Regions from separate parts of the Homo sapiens genome. Here region 2 is linked to region 1. The links come from fine-mapping of genetic effects on gene expression. A gene starts in region 1. The other region holds a variant in brackets. All regions are shown on one strand. Distances are from middle to middle. Region 1 holds the start of XPNPEP1 (X-prolyl aminopeptidase 1). Region 2 overlaps XPNPEP1 (X-prolyl aminopeptidase 1).

Region 1 (16,463 bases):
AGGTTATATTACTAAGATATCTTTTAGAACTACTCATTGTATTTTGAGAAGGGGCTGCTTTTAGCAGGCAAATTGTGATCAGGGAAAGGGATGATTAACAATAATAAATAGTGATTTTCATTCTTGGATATGGTCCTAGGCACTAATTGTTTTTCTGAGTATTTTTATGCACTGTTTTGCAGCTCAGGCAGCCTGTTACTCTGTTTTTCAGCTCCAATTGTTTGAGTTTGGCAGATTTGAGTTAGTAATGAGGATGCATTATGGCAAGGGACACTCATGACATCAGTACACACAGGGCTGCCAGAATTCTGGGGGCTCTGCCAAGCCCCAATGAGTTGCCCCATGCCTTGCAAAATCCAAATTGCAAAACAAGAAGAGTGAGGACTTGCTAGCTGGTGTTAAGTTTGGGGGATTCTATGTTTAGGTGCGAAAGGTGAAACCATTCTGACAAGAAGTAGTTACCTTAGCTTAATTGCAAGGGCAATTTCAGTGAAGTTGAAATCCAGGCCATGTTTGTCAGATTCTCCAGGAGGAGGAGTCACAAATTTGGACATCAATAGTGGTCTGGCAGGTAAAGTAGAACAGTGTAAGTGGTTAAATGGAGGGCTCTCTGTCCCATTTCATGGGGCCAGTCCCTGCGCTGTTCATGTTCCTTGTTACTGTATAGAAGGAAAGACTAGTATTGCCAAACCAACCTTCCGATTTTTCAAAAGAGACCGAAGACACAGATTTTTATTTTTATTTTTATTTTTTATTTTATTTTATTTTATTTTGAGACGGAGTTTCACTCTTGTGTCCCAGGCTGGAGTGCAATGGCGCGATCTGCACTCACTGCAACCTCCGCCTCCCGGGTTCAAGCGATTCTTCTGCCTTAGCTTTCCTGAGTAGCTGGGATTACAGGCAGGTGCCACCACACCCGGCTAATTTTGTATTTTTAGTAGAGATGGGGTTTCTTCATGTTGTTCAGGCTGGTCTCGAACTCCTGACCTCAGATGATCCGTCCGCCTCATCCTCCTAAAGTGCTGGGATTACAGGCGTGAGCCACCGCGCCCGTCACGGATTTTTAAATAGTGAAATCTTCCTCTTTGAATGTTTCCATCTAATTAGAATTTTAAAAGAAATGGAATAGCCCATAGATTGGGAGAAAGTATTTGCATATTATATAATTGATAAGGGACTTGCATCTAGAATATATAAAGAATGCTTACAACTCAATAATCAAAAAAACCTAATAACCCAATTTAAAATGGGAAAGGGATCTGACTAAACATTTCTCCAACAAAGACATATAGATGGTAAATAAACACATGAAAAGAGGCTCAACATCGTTAGCATCAGGGAAACGGAAATTGAAACCACAATACTACTTGAAATAACACTTCATATCCACTAGGATGGCTGGAATTGAAAAAAAGATAACAAGTATGGATGAGGATGTGAAGTTGCAACCCCCAAACAGTGCTGCTGGGAATGGTGTAGCCACTTTGGAAAACAGTCCAAAAGTCTCCCACAAGGGGTTAAACAAAAAGTGACCATATGACTCCGTATTTTCTCTCCTAGGTATATACTCAAGATAAATGAAAACACATGTCCACACAAAAGCTTGCTCATGAATTGTCATAGAAACATTCTTCACAATATCCAAAAGTGGAAGCAACCCAAATGTCCATCAACTGATGAATGGATAAACAAAGTAATATTCTGTACGATGGAATTTTAATTGGCATATTTGGTAATAAAAAGGAATCAAGTACTGATACATCCTACAACATGGATACATCTTGAAAATGCTATGCTAAATGAAAGAGGTCAGTCACAAAAGACCAGATATTAAATGATACCATTTTTATGAAATGTCCAGAGAGGCAAATCTATAGAGACAGAAAGTACATTAGCAGTTGCCTAGGGTGGAGAGGACGGGGGGAAATGGGGAGTGACTGCCCTAGGGTATGAGTTTCTTTTTGGAGTGATGAAATGTTCTAAAATTGTGGTGATGCTTGCACAATTCTATGAATATAGTAAAAACCATTGAATTGCACACTTTCAATTGGCTCTGTGTATGGCACTGAATTGTATTCCAATAAAGCTGTTATTAAAAAGAGAATGTAGTGCTGAGCATAGTGTAATCCCAGCACTTTGGAAGGCTGAGGTGGGTGGATCACCTGAAATTAGGAGTTTAAAACCAGCCTGGCCAACATGGCGAAATCCCGTCTCTACTAAAAAATACAAAAATTAGCTTGGCGTGGTGGCACACTCCTGTAGTCCCAACTACTCGGGAGGCTGAGGCAGGAGGATCCCTTGAACCTGGGAGGTGGAGGTTGTGGTGAGCTGAGATCATGCCACTGCACTCCAGCCTGGGCGACATAGTGAGACTCTGTCTCTGACTCTGTCAAAAAAAAAAAAAAAGAAAAGAAAAGAAAAGAAAAGAAAAAAATATATACTCAGGGTCAAAGAAAACATATGGGATTTGATTACTACATAGTCAGACTGGAAGGCATTTGTCAAGCCCAACACCTTAAGAAACCAGAGGAAAGGGTGCTCTGCCAGTTCTATAGTCACACATTTATTTAGCGGCAGAAACAGAGTCAGAATTTGTCTCTTGACCTTGACCTCTAGGCTGTGCTGCCCCTCTCCAAAGCCCAGTTTTGAAGACATAGCTTGGAAGGGATTGTGAGAAGTCAACATCATGAACAGCTGGATATACTCTCTTCCCTTTCCCATATTTTGCAAAGGTCCCCCAAAGGCTTCTTGAGGAGGGGATAAATTACGGTAAAAAGGAATACTCCTTAAAGGAAGAGACTGCCATAGAGCTTCCCTGAGTCTTTTCCCTCATAGGGTGGGAGGGTCTGTGTGTTTCAAAGAACACTTACTCTGTATGTTTCTAATTCATTTGCACTTAGCTCATCAATATGTTGTTTGTGCAAGAACCATTTGATGTTCAAGAAACCCTCTGGGCCTCTTAAAGGGCTTTTTAAAAAATTTGAGCCAGAGAATTGAACTTTGCCAAGAGTAAATGGAACTCAGATATCAAAAGGTCTGAGTTCAGTTTTCATTGAATACAAAGGGTGAGTAGATTCTGAATTGAGCCAAATGCATTCTCCCACCCTTAATTTACAGTACATTGTTTTGGCAGACTCTACAATCCTGAAAGTTGGCTTGTCTTCTCCCATTCCTTTCTAGGGTGCAACCTCAAGCCTATCTTTTAGTTAACTTTACAAAAAATAAGGCCATGTTATAATGATTTATGAGAGCTTCACTCATTACTGTTCTTGTAACTATCAATTTTATTAGAACAAACTGAAATGTTTGAAAAGGTTAAAACTCTCCTCTAAAGCTATAATTTTGTTTGATCTCCTACAGGGATTTCTATTTTTTTTAGTCCTCTCATCTGGGAGTTTATCAAGAGATGTTGCTCCTGTTTCAATAAGTGGTCAGGTCATCAACCAATTATCAAATTGAATACTAGAGGGCTACTATTACTTGTAGTGCTTGGATTTGGAGTACAAAACGAGTTCCTTGGCTCTGCCTTCCAAGGAGTAAGGGCCAGAGAAATTATTAGTACTTTGAGTTTCTTGTTAATAAAAAACAATCTCAAAAAAATGGCAAAATTAAAATCAGCCCAAGTTCTGCCACCTCAAGATATGCACTAAGATTTTGTGGATCACTTTCCTTTTATTCTAAAAAAGTACTTACTCTGGGTGTAATGGCTCGTGCCTATAATCCTAACACTTTGGGAGGCTGAGGCGGGAGGATTGCTTGAGCCCAGGAGTTTGAGACCAAGGCTGGGCAACATAGGGAGACCCTATTTCTACCAAAGGAAAAAAAATTAGCTGGGTGTGGTGGTGTGTGCCTATGGTCCCAGCTATTCAGAAGGTTAAGGTGGGAGGATTGCTTGAGCCTGGGAGGTCGAAGCTGCAGTGAGCTGTGATCACACCACTGCACTCCAGCCTGGGTGACAGAACAAGACCCTGTCTCTCCCTCCCAAAAAACTCTGTATCTATATATCCGTATCAGTATACATAGTTATGGATATGTTATAAAAATGGGATATTGGCCAGGCGCAGTGGCTCACGCCTGTAATCCCAGCATTTTGGGAGGCCGAGGTGGGCAGATCACAAGGTCAGGAGATCGAGACCATCCTGGCTAACACGGTGAAACCCCATCTCTACTACAAATACAAAAAATTAGCCAGGTGTGGTGGCGGGAGCCTGTAGTCCCAGCTACTCGGGAGGCTGAGGCAGGAGATTGGTGTGAACCCAGGAGGCGGAGCTTGCAGTGAGCCGAGACTGTGCCACTGCACTCCAGCCTGAGTGACAGAGCGAGACTCTGTCTCAAAAAACAAAAAACAAAAAACAAAAACAAAAAAAGGGATATTATATTGTTTTATAATTTACTTTTTCCCTTTGTTAGTTCGTGATTGTCTACATTAATAAAATGATATCTACTCATGCATAAAATTCAATGGTACAGATGGTTACTTAAGTAAAGTCCAGTGGGACATCTGGTTTAAGGTGTTGCAGGATGCAGCACTCAAATAACGTTTTGAGGTCTGCTTCTCCCCTTTCTATTTGCTCTGTCTTCTGCTGCCTTGGTGCCATTCACATGTTGCACATAGAGGCAGCAGTTCGAGTATATGCATCCAGGATCTTGGCTGGCAGAAGGAAGCAAGACTCTATTCCCATAGCAATATCTGATCCTATCATTGTAGCCTATGCCTGGGTTACATGATACACTCTTGGAATCCAAGTGTTGCACTTGGATAACATACATAGAGAATGGGGAAAGGAGGGAAGTAGGGAGAGGTGGGCCCCAGAGGGAATTGGTAGGATGGTTATCAGAAGGAGAATGAATGAATGTCGGGTGGCCCAAAACACAGGTCCACAATCTATACACGGACATTTGGAACTTGTTTTACATTGGTTTCCTAGGGCTTTCGTAACAAAGCAACACAAACTGCGTGATTTGAAAACAAATTTGTTGTCTCACTGTTCTGGAGGGCTGGAAGTCCAAGATCAAGATACCCACAGGGTTAGTTCACTCCATGGGCTGTGAGGGAGAATCTGTTCCATGGCTCTGTCCTAGCTTTCGGCAGTTTGTTGGCAGTCCTGGTGTTTGTTGGCTTGTAGATGCATCGTCCTGATCTCTGCTTTCGTGTTCACATGGTGTTCTTCCTGTGTGCACAGTGTGATTTCTTTTTCTGTTTTAAATAAAGACACTTCATATTGGATTAGGGATCCTTCCTACTCTAATATGACTGCATTTTAATTAATTACATCTGCACTGATCCTATTGCCAAATAAGATCACATTCGAAAGTACTAGGGGTTAGAGCTTCAACATATGAATTTTTGAGGTCACAATTCAATCCAACATATTTCTACGCATTTAATATTTCTGGCTACATCTAAGACCCACCCGGTCTGGGTGTGAATGCCAAAACCAGCTGTCTCCCTCTTTCTGCTGTGTGGGCTAGGAGACTGGATGAGGCCACCTCTAGGGTCCCTTCCAGATAACTTCGCGATTAAGTGTCAGGGCTAGGAATCCATCCTGCTGTCTGAATGTATGTTACAGTACCACCACTTACTAGCTCAGGGACTTTGGGCAAGGGGCTTAACCTCTGCAAATTTCAGTCTCCTCAACCAGTAAAATGAGGATAAGAGTCCTTCACCCATTGGTTTGTTGTGGGTTAGACACATAGCCTTCAATGAATGTCAGGCAGTGTGACTGTTCCACTTCTTTGAGGATGCAAGGACTGTAGAGCCAGGAGAAGAACCTATATAACTCCTGGTGTTCTCATTCTCTCATGGTAATTCAGTGCTATAACTTCTCCAGAGGTTCTCTTGTTAGAACTTCAAGAGCGAGGCCGGGCACAGTGGGTCATGCCTGTAATCCCAGCACTTTGGAAGGTCGAGGCCAAGGAGTTCAAGACCAGCCTGACCAACATGGTGAAACTCCGTCTCTACTAAATACAAAAAATTAGCCGGGTGTGGTGGCGCATGCCTGTAATCCCACCTACTTAGGAGGCTGAGGCAGGAGAATTGCTTGAAGCCGGGAGGCAGAGGTTGCAGTGAGCTGAGATTGTGCCATTGTACTCCAGCCTGGGCAAAAAGAGCAAAACTCCATCTCAAAAAACAAACAAACAAAAAAACTTCAAGAGGGGAAAGGGTTCCTTTTTTTATCTTGCAAACAGGAACTCAAATCCAGCTCAGGGAATGCAAGGTATTTCTCTCTCTCCCCTGAAGCTGGATGCCGTAAATTCTGAGCCAACTCCTTTTCTTTTAGGCAATGTGATTATTAAATACCTGTCCCCCTTAAGTTTCACTTATCTCTCTCTCTCTTATCTCGTTTTCTCTTATAACTTGATTTTTCCCACCAGCTTTCAGATGTGGGCTGGAACCAGTATTTTATTTACAATCTCTCTGTTTTTGGCTTCATAAATTTGGGGAAATGCAACAGATGTGTGCTGCTTTCCCAGGAAGCACATCTTTAGTTTTTTCATGCTTTAACTACACAGTCTAATTCGGCTTGCCTAAATGCTTATTCAATAACGACTTTGAGTTCTTGCAGGTAGCAGAACCTAGCTGATACAGGTATATTAGGCCTTACACCAAGGTCAAAGCAGGAGGAGGTGCCATTCACCTTTAAAAAAATGTGGTCACTTTCATTTAGTGCCAGGTGTTGTTCTAAGCACCAGGGAAATAACAATGAACAAGAGAGCCACCATCCCTGCTTTTGAGGAGTGCACATTCTGAAACATTCATTTCTGCAGAAAATATATAATGAGAACTTATGACATGTTAGATATTGTTCATCATTAAACAAAACAGAAACAATCTGCACTGATGGTTTTGTTGTGTGCGTGGGTGGTGGCAGGAGAGGGGGAAGAATACAGTACACATAAGTACATTAAAAGAATCCTGTTAAAAGGTGGTAAGTGCTATGGAAAAAATGAAGTAGGGTAAGGCGGATTAGGAATATTGGAATGATTTACAAATTTAAATAGGATGGTCAGGGTAGGTGATACTTGAACGAAGACTTGAAGGAAAATGAGGAAGGGAGCCTCAATATTTGGGGGATGAGCAAGTCCAAAAGCCCTGGGACATGAGTGTACCCTGCTTTTTCAAGGAGAGCCAGGAGGCCATTTCAGCTGAAGAAGAGTGAGGAAGGTGAGAACAGGAGGAAATGTGGCTGGGGGTAGATCAAATGGAGCTTTTATGCTGCGTGAAACGAGAAATTAATGGAAAGTGCTGAGCAAAGAAGTGACCTGGTGTCACGCTTCAAAGGACTGGTCTGGCGGCTTTGTTCAGGCTGGACTGTGCAGGTGCGGGATGGTGAGGGGATATTTGGGGGGCTGCTGTAACCACACGGGTGGGGTGGTACAACCCTCTGATGCACATCAGAGGGTAGGAGGTGGAGGTGGTGTGACACGGCCAGATTAGGGGTCTATTTTGGAGGCAGGGCCAACAAGATTTTGCTGGCAGATTAGATGTGGGGTGTGAAAGAGAAGAGGCAGGGAGGATTCCTAAATTTTGCCTCTTAAGAATAGAGTAGCCATTGATTGAGATGGCAAAGAAGACTGGTGGAGAACGTTTTTGCTTTGCTTCGGTGCATTGGGAGTTCCAGGAGTTCCGTTTGGACGTTAAGTTTGAAGGGGCTATTTACTATCCAAGCGGAGCGGAGAGCTGGATTTTGAAGCTCTCTGGGAACATACTTTTGGGGACATTTCTAAAGCTTGAGACCCTGTTCCAAAGCCTCGAAGACCCTGTCGAGGTTCTTCCGGAGCCGGCCACGTCCCTCTCTTCTCAGCCCTCCTAAATTAAGCCGGAAAATCCCTGGGACAGTAGCCCCTTTATTCGGCAAAGCCCTTTTTCCTCTTTGAGGAATGACGACAAAAACGAACAAAAATGAAGACACTCAGCAGCACTGCGTCCTTTCCCCGCTCGCTGCAGGGAGAGGCAATGCGGACTGGTGTGGAAGGGCAGGCCCCGCTCTGGGCCGCAGGCGCTGCGGCCGCGAACCCCAGGTCCGGGAGTGTGGGCGGGGCCTGCGTGTGGGCGGGGCCGCGGCGCCAGCGCCCGCCACGGGCGAGGGCGTGGCCGACCCGGCGCTAGCCCGCCCGCCCGCCCGCCGGCTCTCGCGCCTCCTTCGCGCCGGCCCTTCCGCGGGTGATCAGCTGGTCTGCGCTCCCCTGACGTGGGCTGGGGCACGTCACCGCCGAATGGCAGCCTCCAGAAAGCCACCGCGAGTAAGGTGAGGGCACTCCGCCGGCAGCCGGCGTCCGGGCAGCGTGCAGCCCTCGCTGCGCGGCCGCGCGTGTTGCACCTCGGCGGGCAGGGACGCGCGGGTGAGGAGCCCGGCCCGCCGCAGTCTGGCGAGGGCCGCGCTCGCCGGAGCCCCGGAACAGGAGCCGGGGGAAGGGGTCCATGAGGCCGGGCGAGATCCGGTTCGTTTCCGGAGGGTCGGTGGGCACGGGGCGGCCCGAGTCTGGTTCCTGGACGCGTATGCCCGCGGAACTGCTGCACTCGGCCTGAGGGGGCGGCGGCCGTCACAGTTCCTGGCCCGCGGGAAGGCCCCGTTCTTGGAGGAAGTTGGCCCCTCTTCGTGTCCGGGGAGGTGGGCGAGCCTTTGCCCTCGCTTCTGTTACCCAGGAATCTAAACCTCAAGTTACAATCTCGACAATACTGACTCCTGCAATTCACTCTACTGATCTGTCACCGCCACAAGGATAGACGGTCGCGGGCCCCTCCCTACCCAAATGGTTTCAGAGGCTGTGTAAGGGAATATTTTGGTATAATCTCCAGGAAAATCCCCCCAGTAGCCTGCCCTGGGCTCTCCTTGGGCATAGGAGGGTGAGACAGATAATTTCCCGGCCTCAAGTTAAACATGTTTTAGTTTATTCCCCTGCCATAACCAGGATGTACTTATCAGAGCCTCTGACAAAGTGGGAGACGGAGAGAGGTGTTCAGAGTTCATGGAGGCCACAGGCCAGACTCCCTGGCCATCCCCAAGGGGTCACCCACCTGCTAACCACTTGAGACATGAATGCACTCACTTTGCAGCATGGCCAGGCTTTCTTGCTGAACACAGACCATGGCTCCTGCTTGTGTTTGTGAGTAGGGGGGTCCCAAACCTACCTTGACCTGGATTTGCCGTTGCCACAGCTTGTTAAGGGTGAGCAGAAAACCAGACCCACCCTGTGGAAGTATGTGGGAGGGGTGGAGAACTTCCATCTGGAAGGAGCTTCCTGTAAGTGAAGTGCTGGAAATGGAGTCAGGCAAGTGGATAATGATGAGTTAGGCTGTAGGCCTCAGGTGGTCTTTAGGGGGCCAAGGTGATCTGTGCTAGATTTATAGACTCACAGCCTTTTAGGAGCAGAAGAGTCTTTTCTACACCAGCTGGTAGAGTCTTTTTTACCTCAAAGGAAAGTCCAGTGAAAGGCTGAGAGAGGGGAAGCCATTTTCCACAGGCGCCTCCCCTACTGGTAGAATTTGAGTGCCATTCCTTGTAAAAGTGAGCACTTCTTTCAGTTTCGGTAATGGAAACTGAACTCAAATTGATTTACCTAAAATGGGGTTGAGCTGGCTTCTAGTGTGGCTGAATCCGGGAGCACCACCAACATTGGCTTCAGACTTCTCTTTATCATCTCTTGGCTCTGATTTATTCAGTATCCGCTTCATTCTCAGGGAGACTTTCTCCTTATGGCAGGTTATGACAGTTCTAGGCTGACAGCCCCAGCAGAGAAGTTGAGCCCTCCTTCCTAATGGAGCAGAAGTCCCTGATCTGATGCTCACTGGGCTGCCTTAATTCTCATGTTCATCTGTGAACCAATCATTATGGCCAGAGGGAGGGATTGACCTGCTTTGGGTCCCAGAGCCTGTTAGGTGTTTGGATAAGACTGCTTTGAACCCCTTGGGCTGAAATGGAGAGGGTACATTCTCAAAAGGAAAACCAAGGTTCCCATCAAAAGGAGGGATGGATTCTGGGTAGACAAAGACAACATTGCTTACTTCCCAACCTTAGAACTTGTTCCAGTTTACCCTTGTCTCATCCACTAGGTGTGATTGAGCATCTTGTTCCTTGTTTTGCCCCATGCTGAACGCTACACATGTGTGATTCCCATGAACTGGGGGTTGCAGGGGGGTGAGGTATTCAGAACCCTGCCAGAATTTCTTGGAAAAAGAGGGAGAAGGCCTTTTCTAGTGCTACCATAACCATCTTATACAAAGATTGAAAGTGCTCTGCATGCTTCTTGCCCCTTACCCACTTTGTGGCTCATCATGAAGTTGAGAAGGTGTAGGTCGAAGAAGTTCTGGGAAGGGTAGGAGCACTGAGCTGGATGTTGGGAGGCTGGAACGCTGGTTCTAGCTCTGTCAGCAGTTAGCTGTGAGGCCTTGAGCCAGTCATTTGATCTTTGTTTCTTGGTTTCCTGGTCTAGAGGAGGGAATTGAGTTGGATAGTCCCTGAGGTATATTCTTCTAGTTCTTAATATTTAATGATAATTGTGCTTTGACAGAGAACTTAAGAATTTTATCTGTCCAAACAAGTGAAAGGTGGATAGATCTTGGACTCTGCGGAGACCAAGATACGACAAGAACAGAGCAGCTGTAGTATTGAGCTGCTTCGTAGCTCCTGTGATCCTGACAGAAAGGTGGAGGTGTTGATGCTCACACAGAGAGTTTGAGCTCACCTGTCAGACCTAGTTTCTGGTCTTGGCTTTGCGGCTACTGAGTTATATGGCCTATGGTAAGTTATCTTTGTTTTTTTATTCTGTAAAATGAATGAATAGGATTACCTTAAGGTAACCTTGGCTAGGCACGGTGGCTCACACCTATAGTCCCAGCACTTTGGGAGGCTGAGGTGGGAGGATCACTTGAGGCCAGGAGTTTGAGACCAGACTGGGCAATGTGGTGAGATCCTGTCTCTTCAGAAAATTATTAAAAAAAAAAAATCAGGTTGGTGTGATGGCACATACCTGTAGTCCTAGGTCCTTGGGAGATTGAGGCAGGAGAATTGCTTGAGCTTAGGAGTTTGAGGCTGCCATAAGCTAAGATTGTGCCACTGCACTCCAGCCTGAGTGACACAGCAAGACCCTGTCTCTAAAAAAATGATAACCTTCCACCTCTGTAGTCATGTGTCTGAACCAGTCATTGGGATCAGTTACTTACCATCTTAGAAACTTACGTATGAAGTAATGGGAAATTCGGTGAGAATCTGACTTGTATCCCTGTCCACAAGAAAGAGATGTTATAAAATTTATAATGGCTTTATTGAGATATAATTCACTTATATACAATTCATCTGTTAAAATGTACAATTCAAGTTATTAGTATAGTCACAGAGTTGTACAACTATCATCACAATCATTTTAGAACATTTTCTTCATCCCCGAAAGAAATCCTGTTACCTGTAATCAGTCACTCCTCACCTCAGCCCTTGGCAACCACCAACACTGCATGTCTACTTCCTGTCTTTACCGATTTGCCTATTCTGGACATTTTATGTGAATAGAATCATATACTATGTGGTCTTTTGTATTAGGCTTTTTCCCTTAGCATGTTTTCAAGGTTCACCTATGTCATAGGTGTGATTTCTTTCTTTTCTTTCTTTTTTTTTTTTTAAATGAGACGGAGTCTTGCTCTGTTGCCAGGCTGGAGTGCAGTGGCACGATCTTGGCTCACTGCAGCCTCCACCTCCCGGGTTCAAGTGATTCTCCTGCCTCAGCCTCCTGAGTAGCTGGGACTACAGGTGTGCACCACCACACCCAGCTAATTTTTGTATTTTCAGTAGAGATGGGGTTTCACCATGTTGGCCAGGATGGTCTCTATCTCTTGACCTCATGATCTGCCCGTCTCAGCCTCCCAAAGTGCTGGGATTACAGGCGTGAGCTACCGCGCCTGGCGTGATTTCCCTTTATTGGCAAAGAACATTCCATTATATGGATAGACACTTTTATTTATCCATTTATCAGTTGGGCATTTGAGTTGTTCCTACAGTTTGGCTGTTACAAATAATGCAGCTGTGAATATTTGTGTACAACTTTTTATAAGGATATATATTTTCAATTTTCTTGATTGTGTACCTAGGAATGGTTTTCCAAAGCCATTACACCATTTTACATTCTCATCAGGAATGTTTGAGGGTTCTAATTTTTTCTATACCCTCACCCGCACTTGTTACTGTCAATCTTTTTTATTATAACCTTCCTAGTGGGTGTGAAGTGGTATCACATTGTGGTTTCGATTTGTGTTTCCCTAATGACTAATGATGAGCATCTTTTCATGTACTTCTTGGTCATTTGTGTACTTTTGCTGGAGAAATGTCTATTCAGATCCTTAGCCCATTTAAAATTGGGTTATATGTCTTTTTATTGTTGAGTTATAATAGTTCTTTATATATTCTGGATACTAGACTCAACAGATTTACAGATGTTTTCTCCCATTCTGTGGGTTGTCATCCATTTTCTTGATGGTATCCTTTGAAACACAAACATTTTAAATTCTGATGAAGTCCAGTGTATCTCTTTTTTCTTTTGTTGCTGTGCTTTTTGATTTGTGTCTAAAGAAGTCATTGCCTAATCCAAGGTCAGGCAGACTTATGGTTGCGCTATAAGAGTTTTACAGTTTAGCGCCTACGTTCATACCTGTGATCCATTTGGGTTAATTTTTTTTTATTTTCTTTCTTTCTTTTCTTTCCTTCCTTTCCTTCCTTTTCGTTCTTTTTCTTTTTTCTCTCTCTCCTTCCTTCCTTCCTTCCTTCCTTCCTTCCTTCCTTCCTTCCTTCCTTCCTTCCTTCCCTCCTTCCTTCCTTCCTTCCTTCCTCCTTTCCTTTCTTTCCTTTCTTTCCTTTCCTTCCTCTCCTTCCTCTCCTTCCTTCCTGTCTTCCTTTCTTTCTTTCCTTTTCTCTTGCTCTGTCGCCCAGGCTGGAGTGCAGTGGCCCGATCTCAGCTCACTGCAAGCTCCCCCTCCTGGGTTCACACCATTCTCCTGCCTCAGCCTTCCGAGTAGCTGGGACTACATGCGCCCGCCACCATGCCTGGCTAATTTTTTGTATTTTTAGTAGAGACAGGGTTTCACCGTGTTAGCCAGGATGGTCTGGATCTCCTGACCTCGTGATCTGCCCACCTCGGCCTCCCAAAGTGCTGGGATTACAGGCGTGAGCCACCGTGCCCGGCCCATTTGTGTTAATTTTTGAATATGATATGAAGTGGGTTAAACTTCATTTTTCTTTTTTTGAGACAGGGTCTCTCTGTGTCACCAAGGCTAGACTGCAGTGGGGCGATCACAGCTCACTGCTGCCTCAACCTCTCTGGCTTAAGCGATCCTCCTGCCTCAGCCTCCTAAGTAGCTGGGACCACAGGTGTGCACCACCAAACCTGGCTCATTTTTGTAAATTTTGTAGAGATGGGTTTTGCCATGTTGCCCAAGCTAGTCTCGAACCCTGGGACTCAGGCAGTCTGCCTGCCTTGGCCTCCCAAAGTGCTGGGATTACAGATGTGAGTCATTGTGCCTGGGCTTTTTTGTTTTTTTGTTTTTTTTTTTGAGGCAGGGTCTTGCTCTGTAACCCAAGCTGGAGTGCAGTGGTGCTATCATGGCTCACTGCAGCCTTGACCTCCAGGGCTCAAGTGATCCACCCCACCTCAGCCTCCAGAGTAGCTGAGACTACAGGTGCACACCACCATGCCTGACTAATTTTTGTATTTTTTGTAGAAACGGAGTTTTGCCATGTTGGAAACTTTATTCTTTTGCATGTGGATATTCACTTGTCCCAGCACCATTTGTGGAAGAGACTATTCCTTCCCCATTGAATGGTTTTGGCATCCTCAAAAATCAGTTGACAGTTGTGAGGGTTTATTTCTGGACTGTTAATTCTGTTTTACTCATTTGTAAGTCCATTCTTATGCTAGCACCACACTGTCTTGTATTTAGGTTTGAAATTGGGATGGAAGAGTTCTTTTCAAGATTTTGTTCTTTTTCAAGATTGTTTTGGCTATTCTGGGTCCCTTGCATTTCCATATGAATTTTAGAATCTGCTTGTCAGTTTCAACCTCCAAGCTAGCTAGAATTTTGGCAGGGAATGCATTGAGTCCATAGATCAATTTGGGAATTACTGCCATCTTACCAATAGTAAACCTTCCAATCCATGACCATGGAATAGCTTTTGTTTATTTAGGTCTTCTTCAGTTACTTTCAGCAGTCTTTTTTAGTTTTTGTGGTGTACATTTTGCACTTCTTTTGTTAAATTTATTTCTAACTATTTTTTGTTTTTGATATTGTAAATGGACTTTTCTTAATTTTATTTTTGAATTGCTCATTACAAGGATATAGAAGTCAAATTGATTTTTTAAATATTGATTTTTGTATCCTGCATTCTTGATGAACTCAGTTATTAGTTCTAATTTTGTTTGTGGATTCTTTAGGATTTTCTGTATTCAAGATTATGTCAATTGCAAATAGAGATAGTTTTACTTCTTCTTTTCTAAACTGGATGCCTTTTGTTTCATTTTCTTGCCTACTTACCCTAGATAGAACTTCTGGTACAATGTTGAATAGAAATGCCAAGAGTAGACATCCCTGTCTACTCTGCCAAGAGTAGACATTCCCTAGATTATAGGGGAAAGCATTCAGTCTTTCAGCATTAAGAATGATGTTAGCTGTAGGTTTTGTAATAACTTTTGTCAGGTTGAGGAATTTTTCTTCTAGTTTGCTGAGTACTTTTAACTTGAAGGGGCATTGGATTTTGTCGTGCTTTTTCTGCGTTTGTTGAGAAGACCATGTAGATTTTGTTCTTTATTCTATTGATATGGCCTGTTATAATAATTGATTTTTCATATATTGAGCCAACCTTGTATTCCTGGGATAAGACCCACTTGGCGATGATGATCCTTTTTATATTGTTCTAGATTCCGTTTGCTGGTATTTTGTTGAGGATATTTGTATTTATATTTTAGAAGACATATTGGGGTGTCTTACTTTTTTATGAAAGAATAATATGTTTACTCTCGTTAAGAACATCCCATTCTGTCCAGTAAAACTAAAGTCACAGCCATATGAAAGCAGGCCTAGAGTCATTGGTAAAGCTGCCTGGTTATCTGGTTCTTACCGTGTGGTAGACTGAGCTAATGTGTCCCTCTCTGTCTTTACCAACATGTAAAAATGCGGTTAAATTATAACTTAATTGAGTTCATAGCTGAGTAAAATTCAAAACCTTTTCTATGGCCCCACAGTAGGCCCCCTGGTGCCTCAATGATGTTGTCTCTGAACCACTTACCTCCCCATCCCCTGATACAATCACACTGCGCTGACCTTCTTGCTTTTCCTCAGGTAAACTAGACATACTCCTGCCTCATGGCCTTTGCACTTGCTGTTGTCCTGGAACATTGTTCCCCTAGCCGTTCACATGGCTTGCTTCCTCACTCTTTTTAGGTCTGTGTTAAAATGTTGTCTGTTATAATAGAGGCTGTCCCTGGCTACCCCATATGAAATAATCCTTCCCCTTACCTCCTTGATGCTTTCTTCCCCTTGCTGTGCTTTACTTTTTTTCACAAAACACGTTCTTATTACTTGACGTATTGTGTACTTGTTTTGTGTCTGTTGCCTTCTCTTCCCTGTCTTCTGCCCATCCCCCTGCCTTGCCCCATCTTAATTTGTTAAAGTCAGAGATCTTGTCTGTTTTGTTCACTGTTGTGTCCAGAATAGGGCCTGGATTATGGAAGATTTTTCAATAAATATTTGTTGACTGAATGAACTTGAAAGAAAGAGAAATCCTCAAGTGCCAAAAATGTAGAGGGAACCTAACGCCTGAGTGGTATGCTAGTAACCTGAGCCTGGGAAAGTTACCAGATGCAGATATAGACCTTCATGCCTGGTGTCCAGGGCATTAGACTATCCCCATATGGGAACAAGAAGTTTGTGTGTAAATCTTCTAGCTAATAAATTAATGTGAAAGTCTTAGAAGCAAACAATAACAGAACTGCTTGTACAAACCAGGACCCATCACATTCTCATAGATAAATAGCCTCTATTGAAGATAAGCTCTTAATAAAAGATCACAAAACGCAGAAGGAATGAACCACCAAGAGGGAGAGGCAGCAGACCTAGCAAACATGAGGGTTAGTCTCCCAAGATCTATTTGAAAGTATGGGAGAAATTATAAAATAAGGGCCTACAGTAATGAAGGCACAAAGAGAAGGCATAGAAACCAGAGTGCAAGAATAGGACACCATAAAGAAAGAACGGGCAGATGTGAAAAAGAACCAAATAGAACTTGTGTAAGGAAAAAACATTGAAAATAAGTCTTCTTAGTCTAGTTAAATAGGAGGTGTGAGAATTTATGAACTAGAAGCTGCAACTGAGAAGGTTAACCTGCCATGGGGATGTTTTACACCTGCAAGTTTTACATCAAACTTTTATTTATTCTGCCACTGATAATGGGGGTGAAAGTTCTTCTGACTCATGTTAGAGAACT
Region 2 (14,064 bases), 46 kb after region 1:
ATCACGTGGTGGACATGAGCAATTGCAGCTCAGAGGTGGAACCAGACGGGAGTCAGGCTTCCAGCCTTTCTGTGCGATTCCACTGAATCCTTGCGCAGCAGCTGGACTCCAAGCTGAAGCTCTTCCCTCCCGCTACAAGCGACCCCTTAACATCTTAAGTCAGACAGGTGACAGGGATTTTGATTTCTTTTCTAGGGCTATTTAATCTCCGAGGATCAGATGTGGAGCACAATCCAGTATTTTTCTCCTACGCAATCATAGGACTAGAGACGATCATGTGAGTGTTTGCCCTGCATCTGGAACTCCCTTCCAGAGCTCCTCAGAGCCCTAGTGTGCCCTTTCTGGTCCTGGCCCACCCATCACTGCCTGATATTTCACTGATGTGCTTCTTTTTTCTTGCCCTTTTAACATTTTCCCTTCTTGTTTTCCTTAGCAGTAGGTGTTTATTTATATCCTGCCTCTCTTTGAGCCCCCAAAATGGTTTGAAACGCATGAAAGTGTCTATAGTTCGGGCCACCCATTTGATGTCAAGTTTTCTAGCAGCCAGTGTTAAGGGGTATATATGCTCAATTATACAATTCTGGGTCCACAATGCAAATAAACCCAGTCATTTTGAAGGTCAAAAATAATATGGGAAAACCCCTCCAACTACGCTTTGTTGAATTGTCAGTTTATTTTTTCAAAGCATTTCGTGTGGCCTTCTTTTCATTACTGTTCTATTTCAATAGCTTTTTGCATTAAGACAACACATTTATTAAGTGCTGGTGATGTGCTAAGGGTCTCTGTTAGGTGCTAGGGTGACTGAAACAGGACGGGGTCCTTGGCTGGAGTTGGGGAGATGAGCATGTCCTCTTTCTAAAGTATTTGGGCACATAAGTGGGCACCAGTCTGCTTGTGGGACAGATACAGGTGTTACGAGAGGGGCCTGACCTAGACTTGGAGATCAGAGCAGACTCTTGGGGAAAGTAATATTTTGAAGCAGAGAGTAAGGATAAATGTGGGTGAGTTAGGTGAATGGCAGGGTGAGGAGGGGCGGGGAACCATGATCCAAGCAGAGGGAACAGCATTTTCAGAGACTCTGGACAGTAGAGAGCACAGTGCATGTGGAGGACCTGAAGTGGTTCAGTGAGGTCAGAACATAGTGAGGCCAGAATGTGAGCAGGGGCCACAGAAAAGAGAGGCCTTGTGGGCCACATTCAGGAGCTTGGGTTCTTTTTCTGAACAAGAATAGTGGGAAGCTATTGAACGAATTTTTCAGAGGGAACCACATGTTAGATGTACAAGTTGTAAAGAATATTATGACTGAAACATCGGTAGATGGGGAAAGACTTAGAGGCTGTGGCACTAACCCAAGTGAGAGATGGTGGGACCTGAACCTGAGTGGTGACTGGGCGAGGCTGTAGATGAGCTGGACAGATTAGATGGAGATTTAGGCTGTGGGTCCCAAGGTCTTAATGAAGGACGGGAAGAGGGTCATCAGTGAAGGAGGACACTGCCCAGATTTCTGGCTTGGCAGATTGGGTGGATGGGGGCAGGGAATGCACCTTGGAGGGCAGGATTTGGGAAAGGAGTGGGGAGGAGAGAAAAGGGGCTTGGTTTTGGTTGCCAGGAAACAGAGCCTGATGTGTATGTGTGTCTGTGTTGCCACCTCTCACTCATGTTCCCTCCTTTTTCTGCCACCCACCTCTCCTCCATCTGCAGGCTCTTCATTGATGGTGACCGCATAGACGCCCCCAGTGTGAAGGAGCACCTGCTTCTTGACTTGGGTCTGGAAGCCGAATACAGGATCCAGGTGCATCCCTACAAGTCCATCCTGAGCGAGCTCAAGGCCCTGTGTGCTGACCTCTCCCCAAGGGAGAAGGTGTGGGTCAGTGACAAGGCCAGCTATGCTGTGAGCGAGACCATCCCCAAGGTTGGTGACCCCACTTTGGCCCATCTAAACTCTGCCACCCCCTTCCCAGTTCTGGTATTGTCTTTGGAGCACAGGCAGATTTCTGAGGCTGCCTGTTGGATCAGAACTGTGGTCTCCATGGATGAGGCCTTAAAGCTGGAGCCATAGCAAGAGCCTGAGGGCCCTTATTGCTTGTTGAGTCTTGTGTTTTCCAGAGTGTGGCATGAGAGATTATTTTAGGTGGTACACATTATTATTTAGGTTTGCTTAAATATATCTGTTTTAACAGCATTTAGCATATAATAGAAAAAACATAACTAGCATGAGTTCATGATATAATTATTTAAAATAAAGTTGAATTTAATAAAGCTGATTTAAAGATGGTCTAAAGTAAAGTACTAAGTGAATAAGGGTACAGCAGTTAAGAAGCTAGGGTAAAAGCTGTGCAGGTGGTATAAGAATGCTTGAAGCTTGGGAAATGCTTCTCTACCCCCTCCTTCTGCCGCACCACATTTTATAGCTAAGGACACTTGAGGCTCAGAGAGGATTGGGGAGTTGGGGATTTGGGGATTTGTCAAATTCAAGTGATAGTGATAGCCTTGCCCTTTACTGAGCCCTTGCTGGGCAGTGCTAAGCAGCTGACACTTGTTGCCTCATTTTCATTAGGGTCTGGGATGGGACTGGAATCCAGGCCTCTTTAGAGGTAGGCTTTTCTACTGTCCTCCCCTGGGCCTCTGGCTGCCAAGTGGCCTTTGGCAAGCCCAGTGATGTCCTTTCTTCTCCACTGAGCAGTGGGGCATCCTGGGAAGAATCCAGGCCTGGCTCTCTAGATCTGGCTTGCCATTGTACCCCTGCCATCATCACACACAGTGTGACTCCTCCTCTCTCTCTCTCCTCTCTCTCTGGAGAGAAAGAGAAAAGGAGATAAGATCACAAAAGCAATTTTAGAAGCTTTGTGCAAGTGCCAGGTGTGCTGAGGCCCCTCTGCTGGATTCTAACTTGTTCTCAAATTGGAAAGGGTCTTCTCCAGCCCTTCAAGATCAGATTATTATCAGTAGCTGAGATAGGACCACTGGGCGGGAAGGGAGGGAGCAGGAGACCTCACTCATCAGGTCATGTGCATGGCTAGACAGGGAGAAAAAGCCCCCTTTGTACAGCAAGAGAAGGGTGATTTCGGTCAAGCTTTCAGTGTTAGTGAACTCTAACCACAACCACAGTGGCTTGGAAAGCAATGTCTTGCTGACGGCAGGCAGCCAGCAGTCTCAAAGAGCTAAGGGAGTGAGGGATGGAAGAGAGACACCTTGTTTGATGTACTTACTCTTTTTGGTTGAGCTTAAGCTCAGGGTCATCAATCAAAAGGGACAGGTCGTTGGGGCCCCAGGGGATAGCTATATGGGTCGCCAGTGGGAGCTCTTCAAATGATTTGTCTAAAGTAAGTTTTGCTGAGCAAAAAGGTTGTTGCCTTGGTCTTGGGTGGGTGGAGCCGGTTTGATTTCCCACCCTACTGCCCTTTGCCTCTAGGACCACCGCTGCTGTATGCCTTACACCCCCATCTGCATCGCCAAAGCTGTGAAGAATTCAGCTGAGTCAGAAGGCATGAGGCGGGCTCACGTGAGTAGAGGAGCTGGTGCAGAAGATGGGATGTGAGGTGGTCAGAAGGCCCGGCTCCTTCACCTCCTCTGTGGCATTGAGCCTGGCACAAGGTTAGAATCTCTCTGAGCCTCAGCCTCCTGGCCTTCCAGGAGGAGTTATTGAGGGAATGAAATAAAATACTTGATGGATTAGATCTTTACAAAGTATAATACACAATACAAAAGGAGATATTGATGTTCACAGTGTAGATGATGGTGATGACGTGATGCTGATGAAGAAAGATTTTGGGCCCAGAGGTGGCTTTTGATAGTGGCCTGTTTTTTCCTGGCCCCTGTAGGGTTCTTAACCTTTAAGTTAACCTTTTGGAGGAGCTCCCTGTGCTCTGAGGTGGGGCCCTTCCTGATTGTACCTGAACTACTGAATAGCAGAGGAGCCTTTCCCTGATAATGGGAGTTGCTGCACACACCAGCTTCCCAGAAATGTCCACATGTAAAGCTCTGGTTGCTGATGATGTGTGGCCCTGCAGGTACAGCCTTCTCAGTATTGCATTAGGGCTAGGCTCTGAATCTGGTCACGTGATTTTCAGTGATAACTTAAAAAATGTCTCCATTGTTTGCACAGATTAAAGATGCTGTTGCTCTCTGTGAACTCTTTAACTGGCTGGAGAAAGAGGTTGGTTCTTAGTCTTTGTTTAATATGTGGATATACATTATTCAGACCTACCTATATGTGATTCTAACTCTAGCATCTCCCATGCTCTGCTGACCATGAGATCTGAGATCTTCATCAAATTTTTGGGCTCTATTTTAATAATTCTCTCTGGAAATTTGGTGTGTGTAGATTTCAAAATTCCTTAATTATGAAAATAGTAACAAGAATGAAGAAAA[G/A]TTCCATAATAGAGTGGATGCTTTTTGGGTTAGGGAATCATAACTAAGTGGAATTTCATTATAAGGAAAAATGAGTCTTATAATATTATTATAGGCAAGCTGATTGTATTAGGAGAAAAAGATCTTTGTGTACATTTTGAACTTCAGTTTAAGCCTTGAGCCTTTTTATATTAAATTGACTCTTGGCCATTAATTTCTTGCTCTAGTTGACAAGAGGGTGGTTTCTCTGTGGTGTTATTAAACAATATCATGTTCCCTTTAAGTATTGTATAAACAACTCTTTAATTGGGAAAAGAAAATATTGTCTTTATTCCCACTAGTGTAACTTTTTCCCTCATGTTTCCTTCTGGTGATTGTTCATCTATGTAAATTATTATTATTATTTTATTTTATTTTATTTTTTGAGACGGAGTCTCACTCTGTCACCCAGGCTGGAGTGCAGTGGTGTGATCTCGGCTCACTGCAACCTCTGCTGCCCAGGTTCAAGAGATTCTCCTGCCTTAGCCTCCCAAGTAGCTGGGATTATAGGCGCCTGCCACTGCGCCTGGCTAATTTTCGTAGTTGTAGTAGAGATGGGGTTTCACCATCTTGGCCAGGCTGGTCTTGAACTCCTGACCTTGTGATCCACCCACCTCGGCCTCCCAAAGTGCTGGGATTACAGGCATGAGCCACCATGCCTGGACTTTATGTAAATTATTATTATTACATTTTTATTATTTTTTTTTATTTTTGAGACAGAGCCTTGCTCCATCGCCCAGGCTGGAGTGCAGTGGAGCGATCTCGGCTCACTGCAAGCTCCGTCTCCTGGGTTCACGCCATTCTCCTGCCTCAGCCTCCCGACTAGCTGGGACTACAGGCGCCCGCCACCATGCTTGGCTAATTTTTTGTATTTTTAGTAGAGACGGGGTTTCACTGTGTTAGCCAGGATGGTCTCGATCTCCTGACCTTGTGATCCGCCCGCCTCGGCCTCCCAAAGTGCTGGGATTACAGGCGTGAGCCACCGTGCCTGGCCGTAAATTATTTTTAAAAATATAAATTATTTTTACATGTCTCTTAGTGTGCAGATAAATTTTTTTTCTTTTTTTTTTTCTTATTTTGAGATGGGGTCTCATCTGTTGCACAGGCTGGAGAGTAGTGGTGTGATCACAGCTCACTGCAGCCTCAGCCTCCCCAAGCTCAGGTGATCCTCCCACCTCAGCCTCCCGATTAGTTGGGACTACAGCCCACCTGATTTTTTCTGATTTTTTTGTAGAGATAAGGTTTTGCCATGTTGCCCAGGCTGATCTGAAACTCCTGGGCTCAAGCGATCCACCTATCTTGGCCTCCCAAAGTGCTAGGATTATAGGTGTGAGCCATCACACCTGGCTTAGATATGATTTTGTGTTTTATTTTATTCTCTTAGAATCATAGTGTGAACATTTTCCATGTACATTGAGGCCTTAAAAAAGGATCCAAATGAAAACTGCATCTAGTGGCTCTTCTGATTTACTAACCCAGTCCTCCTATTTTTAAATGTTTGGGTTGTTTTTAATTTTTTGCTGTTATCAGTAATCCTGCAATAATCTCTCCGCATTTATCTTTTTTATTTCTCTAGAATGATTTTCTTACGATGATTTCTTAGGAGGGGATGCTTTTGAATTTTTAAACTTAGATATGTTGTTTTGGGAGGTTTTAGGATAAAATACTGAAGCACAATAGTTGAGTGAAAAATTAAATGAATAGAAACTATTGGATTTTAGATAGCTTTGGTGAGAGCCTTTGGGAGTTCTCCCTTGCTAAAGATGTGTCCTGTAGATTGGTCAGTTGGGATGAAGCAATTGAGGAAAAAGTGAGCTTTTAATGTACCTCCTCTAATTTGTAAGAGGCACACATGAATTTATCTCACCAGATGATTTATAAGCAATTTTCTCATAGGTTCCCAAAGGTGGTGTGACAGAGATCTCAGCTGCTGACAAAGCTGAGGAGTTTCGCAGGTAAGGATCCATTTGGGGGGACCCAGGAGCCTCGTGCTGATTTTCTTGCTAGTTGAATGAGGCTGGAAGGGCCCTGAATCTTAGCACAGTAAAAACCTTTAAGCCACTCTGCTTTCTGTCTTTCTGTTACAGGCAACAGGCAGACTTTGTGGACCTGAGCTTCCCAACAATTTCCAGTACGGGACCCAACGGCGCCATCATTCACTACGCGTAAGGCATGCGGAGGAGCATGCTGCCTGGCCTTGCTGCTTCTGCACAGGAGCCTGAGCAGGGGAGAGACATTATTTTACCAGAGGCCTCTGTGCCCACCTTCATCTGTCTGTTGAGACTGTAAAATGAAGGGAAATAAGACTTCTAAGATTTTATTTTCTCCCAATCCCCAAGCCTCTGCCTTTTGGGAGCCTCTTCTTAGGCTCAGTATGGCACTGGCATTCTCTGCAGGGTAGTCAGATGGGTGTCCCTCTTTCCTTTTTGAAGCTGCAGGAACTGTATGCATAGCCCTTGCATCTTGATGACTAAGTTTTTTTTTTTTTGGAGACAAGGTCTTGCTCTGCTGCCCAGGCTGGAGCGCAGTGGTGCCATCACAACTCACTGCAACTTTGAACTCCTAGACTCAAGCAATCCTCCTGCCTCAGCCTCCTGAGTAGCTGGGACTATAGGCATGTGCTACCACTCCTGGCTAATTTTTAGATTTTTTTGTAGAGATGAGGATCTTGATGTGTTGCCCAGGCTTGTCTCGAATTTCTGGACTCAAGCAATCCTCCTGCCTCAGCCTCCTAAAGTGCTGGAATTACAGGTGTGAGCCACTGTGCTTGGCCCATGACTGGAATTTTTGAGTAGTTTTCTTTCTTGGTAACAGCAGCTGTTTTGTACTAGTCCATACATCTTGTGAGCTCCATCAGTTCCATACCAAAAAAAAACTTAGTAGTAGGTTGTGAGGCAACCTGTTTTGGGTGGAGAGATAATCAGTACCCTCTCTTCCTGTCCCCCTGAGCCTGAAGCCTGGCATCCCAGTATGTGGTTTTTTTACCACGTGGTCTACAAGAACCCATGGACCCACAGGGCCGAGCCTCCCTTCCTTGTGAGACAGAGGGGCACTGATATGTCTAGGACTGACAGATCTTCCTGTGGAGATGGGGGGAAATGTCATTAGGTGTGGCCATTGGGCTTCAGCCTCAGCTCTGCCTGGTTCAAACCGCTTTGCTTTGCACTGGGTATTTTGAGTTCTGTGCATCCCCATCTGTTACATGCACAGCCAACAAAAGAACACTGTGCTTGGGCACACACTTTTTTCCCCCTTTTAATAATTGTTTTTAGAGCTTTTAGTCTTGGGGCAGATTTTGAAGCTGTGTGTGGGAGACAGTCACAGATGGGACAGTACAGTTTCCTCACTTAATGCTTCTGTTCCAGCATAAAAATATCAGAGGGACTTCAGTTTTTGTTTAACTCAGGATGAATTTCCTGGCTGGATACTATCCTAGAATTTTCCGTATAATTAAAACATTAAACAGTTTCATGCCAGTGGAAGAAATTTGCCTCTGCGTTGGCATTTCTTCATTGTGGGTGGTTGGAAGCCTGTTTAGAGGCGGGGTTCTGGAGGTACTGGTTGTCTTTTTTAGTTGTTCAGCTTGTGTGTGGACTGGTGCCCTTATTGCTGAAGAGGGGGTGGTACCTGGAAATGGAGGACAACCTCACTTCAGCTGCAGGGCAGAGACTTGGAGTGCTCTCATCCCTTTGGGTGTTTCCCAGTGCAGTGATATTGTTTTGAAAACGGTGTGGGGAAAGAGATCACTTTTTGAAAATACCTCATGTTTGTTTGAAGCAGAAGAATATCGTGATCCATTCCTTTTCCCAGCAAAATTCCTTTAGTTTTTCTCCCAAGTTGAGACATCCACTCCTGCCTGTCTAGCAGTCTGGGGAGCGAGTGGGGAGGTACCTGCTGGGGTCAGGGCTGAAGGAGGGGCCTGGAGGCTGAGGCAGGGGCCTGGGGCTCCCAGAGACAAGCAAGGCTGCAGTGACTCCAGGCTGCTCCTGTCCCAGTTCCCAGGACTCTAGCTAGGTCCTGTTGCATCTAATCGTTCTCATTTTTTTAGCTTTTAGAATTATCTCTTGAACACCTATTTTGTTTCAGACACAAACAGAGGTAGACATAAAGAAATGTGTTACTTTTCCTTTGTTGAGCTCTTTATCTCAGCTGGGGAGATAGGTTGATTGGATCTTTGAAAAGTAGAAGTTTAATATTAGTTGAAATAATTCATTATTGCATAACTTTCTATTTTGATATAATTTCAGGCTTATGTAAGTTGCAAGAATAGTACAAAGAGCTCTTGTGTGTCCTCCTCCCAGATTCACTAAGTGTTTACATTTGTGGAATAATTAATTTTTAATTAACTTTGTTAGGCCAGTCCCTGAGACGAATAGGACCTTGTCCCTGGATGAGGTGTACCTTATTGACTCGGGTGCTCAATACAAGTAAGTAAACCAGGACTGCTGTGGAACTTGACTATGGATTCGAGGCAGTGGAGAAGGTGGACAGCTGAGCTCCAGCTGAGAGCACTCAGCTGGTCATCGCCCTCTGTGCTGGCCACTAATGGAATCGTTCCTGTGTCTTGTCATTTTTTTCACCCCTATTTGAAATAGCCCAGTTGTGACTCTGTTCTCACAAAAGACTGTTTGATAGAAATGTTACAGTCCTTGGCTGGAAGTTTTAAAAATATAAGTAAACAACTGTGAAGTAAAGCAAGCTTTTGGAACCGTTGAAAGTTTTCCACCCCAGCCCATGAACCGCCTGCCGGTTCCCTGTACTCTCAGCTGCCCCAGGGCCTTATGAAGTAAGGGATTAATTTTGAATGAATAAATGAGAAATGAGGGCTGCCCCCACATTTCTGAATTTCTTTCTCCATGTTTTGCTGCTTTCACGGCTATCATCTCTGGAACAAAGTTTCTCAGAGAAGAACCCAAGATTTGGTTGGGTCTTGATACGGAACCCAAAAGAAGGAGTAAGAATAGACCCTGTCTGCATTAAGAGGGCACGAGCAAGGCCTTTTTTTTGAGACAGAGTCTCACTCTGTAGCCCAGGCAGGAGTGCAGTGGCGTGATCTCGGCTCACTGCAAGCTCTGCCTCCTGGGTTGCAGCCATTCTCCTGCCTCAGCCTCCCAAGTAGCTGGGACTACAGGTGCCCGCCACCACGCCCGGCTAATTTTTTGTATTTTTAGTGGAGACGGGGTTTCACCATGTTAGCCAGGATGGTCTCGATCTCCTGACCTCGTGATCCGCCGGTCTCGGCCTCCCAAAGTGCTGGGATTACAGGCGTGAGCCACTGTGCCCAGCCGAGCAAGACCTTTTAGTGCTGCTCCATTCCCCACTGAAGTTGGGACTATGGCTAAGGGAGGACCTAATTATTGAATGAGCTCAGCCAATTACGTGGCAACCATGCCTGGCCTTGGGACACAGGGGTGTTAATAATATCAGCCTAGAGCTAAGGATTGCTTGATAATGGTGTAAACTTTTCTTCACTTCTAAATTTTTAGCAGGATTCTAGAAGTTATCCTTTCTATGTCAGGGATATAGTCTAGTGTGTGTTAAGATATGTACTTGGATATTTTTAGGGTCTCTGTCCAGGAAACCCCCTGCTGTTCTAACAGGAGAAGTTGGGTTTTGGCCCTCTTTTGCTAGAGATGGGCTCCTGTTTTCTTTGCCTTCTTCTGTCTTGTTCATAACCCCAGTGATAGTGTCTCTCGTGAAACAGCCCTTATGCTGTAGACCAAGAATGCGTGTGTCAGGGGCTGACGTCACTCCCAGTTTATTTAGCCATCCCTGCATTCACACTTTGTTTCATTTTTTAAAATAACTTCATTGGGGTAAAATTTATGTACCATGTAATTCACCCACTTAAAATATACAATTAATTTTTTTTATATATTCACAGAGTTTTGCAGCCATCAGCACAATCAATTTTAGAACATTTTCATTACCCCAAAAAGAAACCTCATACCCAATAGCGGTCACTACCCCCTTTTCCACTACCCTGGAGAACCACTACTCTCCTTTCTGTATCTATGGATTTGCCTATTTTGGACCCTTCATAGAAATAGAATTGTATTATGTATGGCTTTCTGTGTCTGGCTTCTGTCATTTAGCACAATGTCTTCCAGGTTCATCCATGTTGCAGCATGTATCAGTATTCCATTTCTTTTTAATTACTGAATGGTATTGCACTGTGTGGATAATCCCCCATTTTGTTTATCCATTCATCAGTTGATGGACATTTCAGCTGTTTCCATCTTCTGGCTATTATGAATAATGTGGCTGTGAACCTTCATGTACAAGTTTTTGTGTGGATGTATGTTTTCAGTTCTCTTGGATATATAACTAGGAGTGGAATTACTGGGTCATATGGTGACTATATTTAACCTTTTAAGGAACTGCGAACTATTTGCAAAGATGGCTGTGCTATTTTACATGCCCACCAGCATTGTATGGGGCTTCTCACTTGTCCACATGCTTGCCTGTGTCATATTTGACTTAAAGCTTATTTTGACGGGAAACCAATTTGTCCTTTTTTTGGAAAGGGATGGCACCACAGATGTGACGCGGACAATGCATTTTGGGACCCCTACAGCCTACGAGAAGGTAAGGTGGAGGTAAAAAACTCAAGAGGTCCTCTCTGCTTTCTTAAGAAGAGCATTGCTTTTATGAAAAGGGATTGTATAAAGAAGTAAAAATTACATGTGGGGTAGTAAAATTGCTCCTTGCTGTGGAGTCAGGCTTATCTGCTTTACGAGGTTCATTTAACTAATTATTGGAATAAGACATTTGGAGAAATTTTTAAAGCATTCTGCTAAGGTTAGGGCAGCTCAGGTGTAAGTTTAAATATAATAGCTTTGGCCTTCTCTTGAGTCAGGAAATGCCTTTGAGGCTGGGGATGAGAGAGTGAAATACATGCTTTATAAGCAGTGCCTAGATTTGATTTTGAAGGCCACCCCCTTCTTTTTTTGAGATTCTTATTTACAGGCTTAACTCTCTGGAAACTTTCTGAAATGACAGACTCTATTAAGTTTCTGGTATGATTGGCATGGAAAGGGGAAAGAGAGCTGTGAGGCAGAGAGATGTGTACTAGGGGTCTGGAGACCTGGCTTCAGAGCTTCTGTGCCATTTACTAGCTCTGTGACGTTGAACAAAGCAGTCACCATCCATAAAAATGAGGATAAAAGGACCCACCTTCCCGGGTGGCTGTGAATTCCCATGAGCCCAGCAAGTTCCTGGATCATAGTCACTGCTCAGCAAATGCTGATTGAGCACCTAAGTGAATCTGTTTGTCCAAGAGAGCTCCTTCAGGAAGATTATCCAAGGAAAAGGGTTTTATGCAATGTAGTGGGGCAGGTTTCATTGTCTTGGTCCCTTGCCTTTTCCATTTGTATTCACCAGTGCCTTAGAAGAATTTGGACCTTGCGTCTAGGATTCTTTTGGTGTGACTCTTTTTGTGCTTTTCAAAGAGCTCAACCAGGCTGAGGAGCATGGAGTTTTAGTCCTGACTCTGCACCTTACTGGCAAGCTGCTACACTTCTGAGTAGCACTTCTCTTGTCCGGACAGTGGGGATAACCCCTGAAGATAGGATGGTGGTAGGGAGCACAGCTGTTGAAGCAAGAGTGCCTGGCTCCAAGGCCAGATGCTGCCACTTAGGCACTGTGTGATCTGGGCATGCTACTGAATCTCTCTGTGAAGCGAGGATAACAGTAGTGCCTCCATCGTGAAGTGTGGGATCAAACATACAGTGCTTAGAATAGTGCGTGGCACAGAGGATAGCTCAGTAATGTTAGCTAGGGTCATCAGTACTTTTTATTACTTTTCCATTCTTTCTAAGGCTCACATGATGGAGTATGTCAGAGTGTTCATTATAAAGTCATGTGGGGTCATCTCTCTGACAGTGCTCTTCTACTAAATTGAATTTCAAGATTTTCTGGGAAATTGGTCCCGTGGCCAGGCTTTTTTTCCACCAGATTTTTTTCTTTTTACTTACATTTTCTCTATGATATTGCTAAAAACTTTAGCAGGCAGGATTTTCTGAACTACCAGAAAACTACAGGATTAGACATCTGTCCCCATTCTGCAACATGCCCCTGGGTTTTCTTTGCAGGAATGCTTCACATATGTCCTCAAGGGCCACATAGCTGTGAGTGCAGCCGTTTTCCCGACTGGAACCAAAGGTAGGTGGTGCATTCTGTCACATGGCAGGCTCTTTTTCTTGTTTGAGAATCAAATATGTCTATGTTTGAGTGAAAGAACATGTCGTTCCTTCACTGTGAGGTCCCCATCCCACTTCAGGCCCAGCCAGGTGCTCATGGGGTGAGTCTCCATAACCCACTGACTGAGCCCAGAGGCCTCAGGGAGCCGGGTTAGGATTGGGCCCAGTACCCCCTGTGCACCATTCTCCTGACCACTTATGGTATTGGATGACACATGTGGATGGCTCCCAGGAGAGGACAAACCAGATATGAAGGTCACAGGGCCTGAGTGGAAGTTGGTGCAGCCTCCTGTCTGCCCTTTAGTACTGGGCCAGTGCTTCCTTTCGGGATTCTTAGGATTTATTTTACTGGGACCCTGACTTCAGCTATGTACTACTTTGCTTGAGGCCTGGTGGGTGGAGCATTGGACTGGGCATTGACAAGACCTGGGCTGCCTTGCTTTTGGGTAGATTAGACATGTACTCATCTCCCTAGGCCTCAGTTTCCTCATCTGTCATGCCTGCCTGTCTGCTTGCAGTCTGGTTAGAGTCTCATCTTTGTAATTCTGAAACCTTAGGGTCGCAGAGCTGGCAAGGGAACGTCCATGTCTGATACGGCCTCTGTGTGCTGTAGGTGTCTATCCCCGCTCACCAGCATCCTGAATGGATGATCGCCTAGCTTCAGACTGAGCTCTGATGGTTTCTCAGGAGCTCTGATTGTTAGAAAGTTCTTCCTTGTGCTGTGCTGAAATCTGAACCCTCCAGTAACTTACCTATTGGTTTCTGTTTCACGTTCTGGAGCCACACATAATAAATTTAATCTCTAAAGCGCTGTACAAATACAATTAAGTGGCTCTTTATGTCTTTCAGGTCACCTTCTTGACTCCTTTGCCCGTTCAGCTTTATGGGATTCAGGCCTAGATTACTTGCACGGGACTGGACATGGTGTTGGGTCTTTTTTGAATGTCCATGAGGGTCCTTGCGGCATCAGTTACAAAACATTCTCTGATGAGCCCTTGGAGGCAGGCATGATTGTCACTGATGGTAAGTGTCCCTCACATAGAGGGCATGCGTGGATCCTTGAGCCTTTTTGAAAGCTATTCGTTGTTTTGTATTTTTTAATTAGTTTAAAGTAAATTGGCAATACTTTTCCCTTCCAACAAACTTTTCTGATTATAGAACTGATACATGTTCATTTTAGAAAAAATGAGATGGGAACTGTGTAAAAAGAAAATGAAAATCATTTGCAATCTAACCACTCAGGGGAAACATGACTTAGTGTTTTACTGTATTAGCTTTTGGTCTTTCAGGTATGTAGATAGCATTTTTTTTTTAAATCATTGAGATCTTACTGGGCATCTTGTCTTATGTTCTGCTTTCTTACTTGATACATTGCCTTTTCTCAGGTCATTGCCAAGTCTTTGTAAATATATTTTAATGCCTTCATTATTGTGTCTTACGGATGTGAACCATGATTTATTTAGTGGATCCACTG

What was found.
Region 2: its variant is fine-mapped to the expression of XPNPEP1 in whole blood (INTERVAL, PIP 0.95).

What each region holds. Positions count from the first base shown.
Region 1 is chr10:109,915,188-109,931,650 of GRCh38, reverse strand. It overlaps XPNPEP1 (X-prolyl aminopeptidase 1), which reads left to right and starts at 8,140. Exons shown (of 21, transcript NM_020383.4): 1 at 8,140-8,249. The coding sequence starts at 8,218. RefSeq lists a silencer at 7,925-8,464.
Region 2 is chr10:109,870,280-109,884,343 of GRCh38, reverse strand. XPNPEP1 (X-prolyl aminopeptidase 1) reads left to right here. Exons shown (of 21, transcript NM_020383.4): 9 at 196-277; 10 at 1,702-1,912; 11 at 3,413-3,502; 12 at 4,106-4,156; 13 at 6,286-6,344; 14 at 6,477-6,554; 15 at 8,745-8,816; 16 at 10,917-10,977; 17 at 12,483-12,552; 18 at 13,440-13,613. Among named protein-coding and RNA genes, the nearest start is that of XPNPEP1, 46 kb to the left of the region's middle. The variant G/A (reference allele first, on the strand shown) is at 4,372.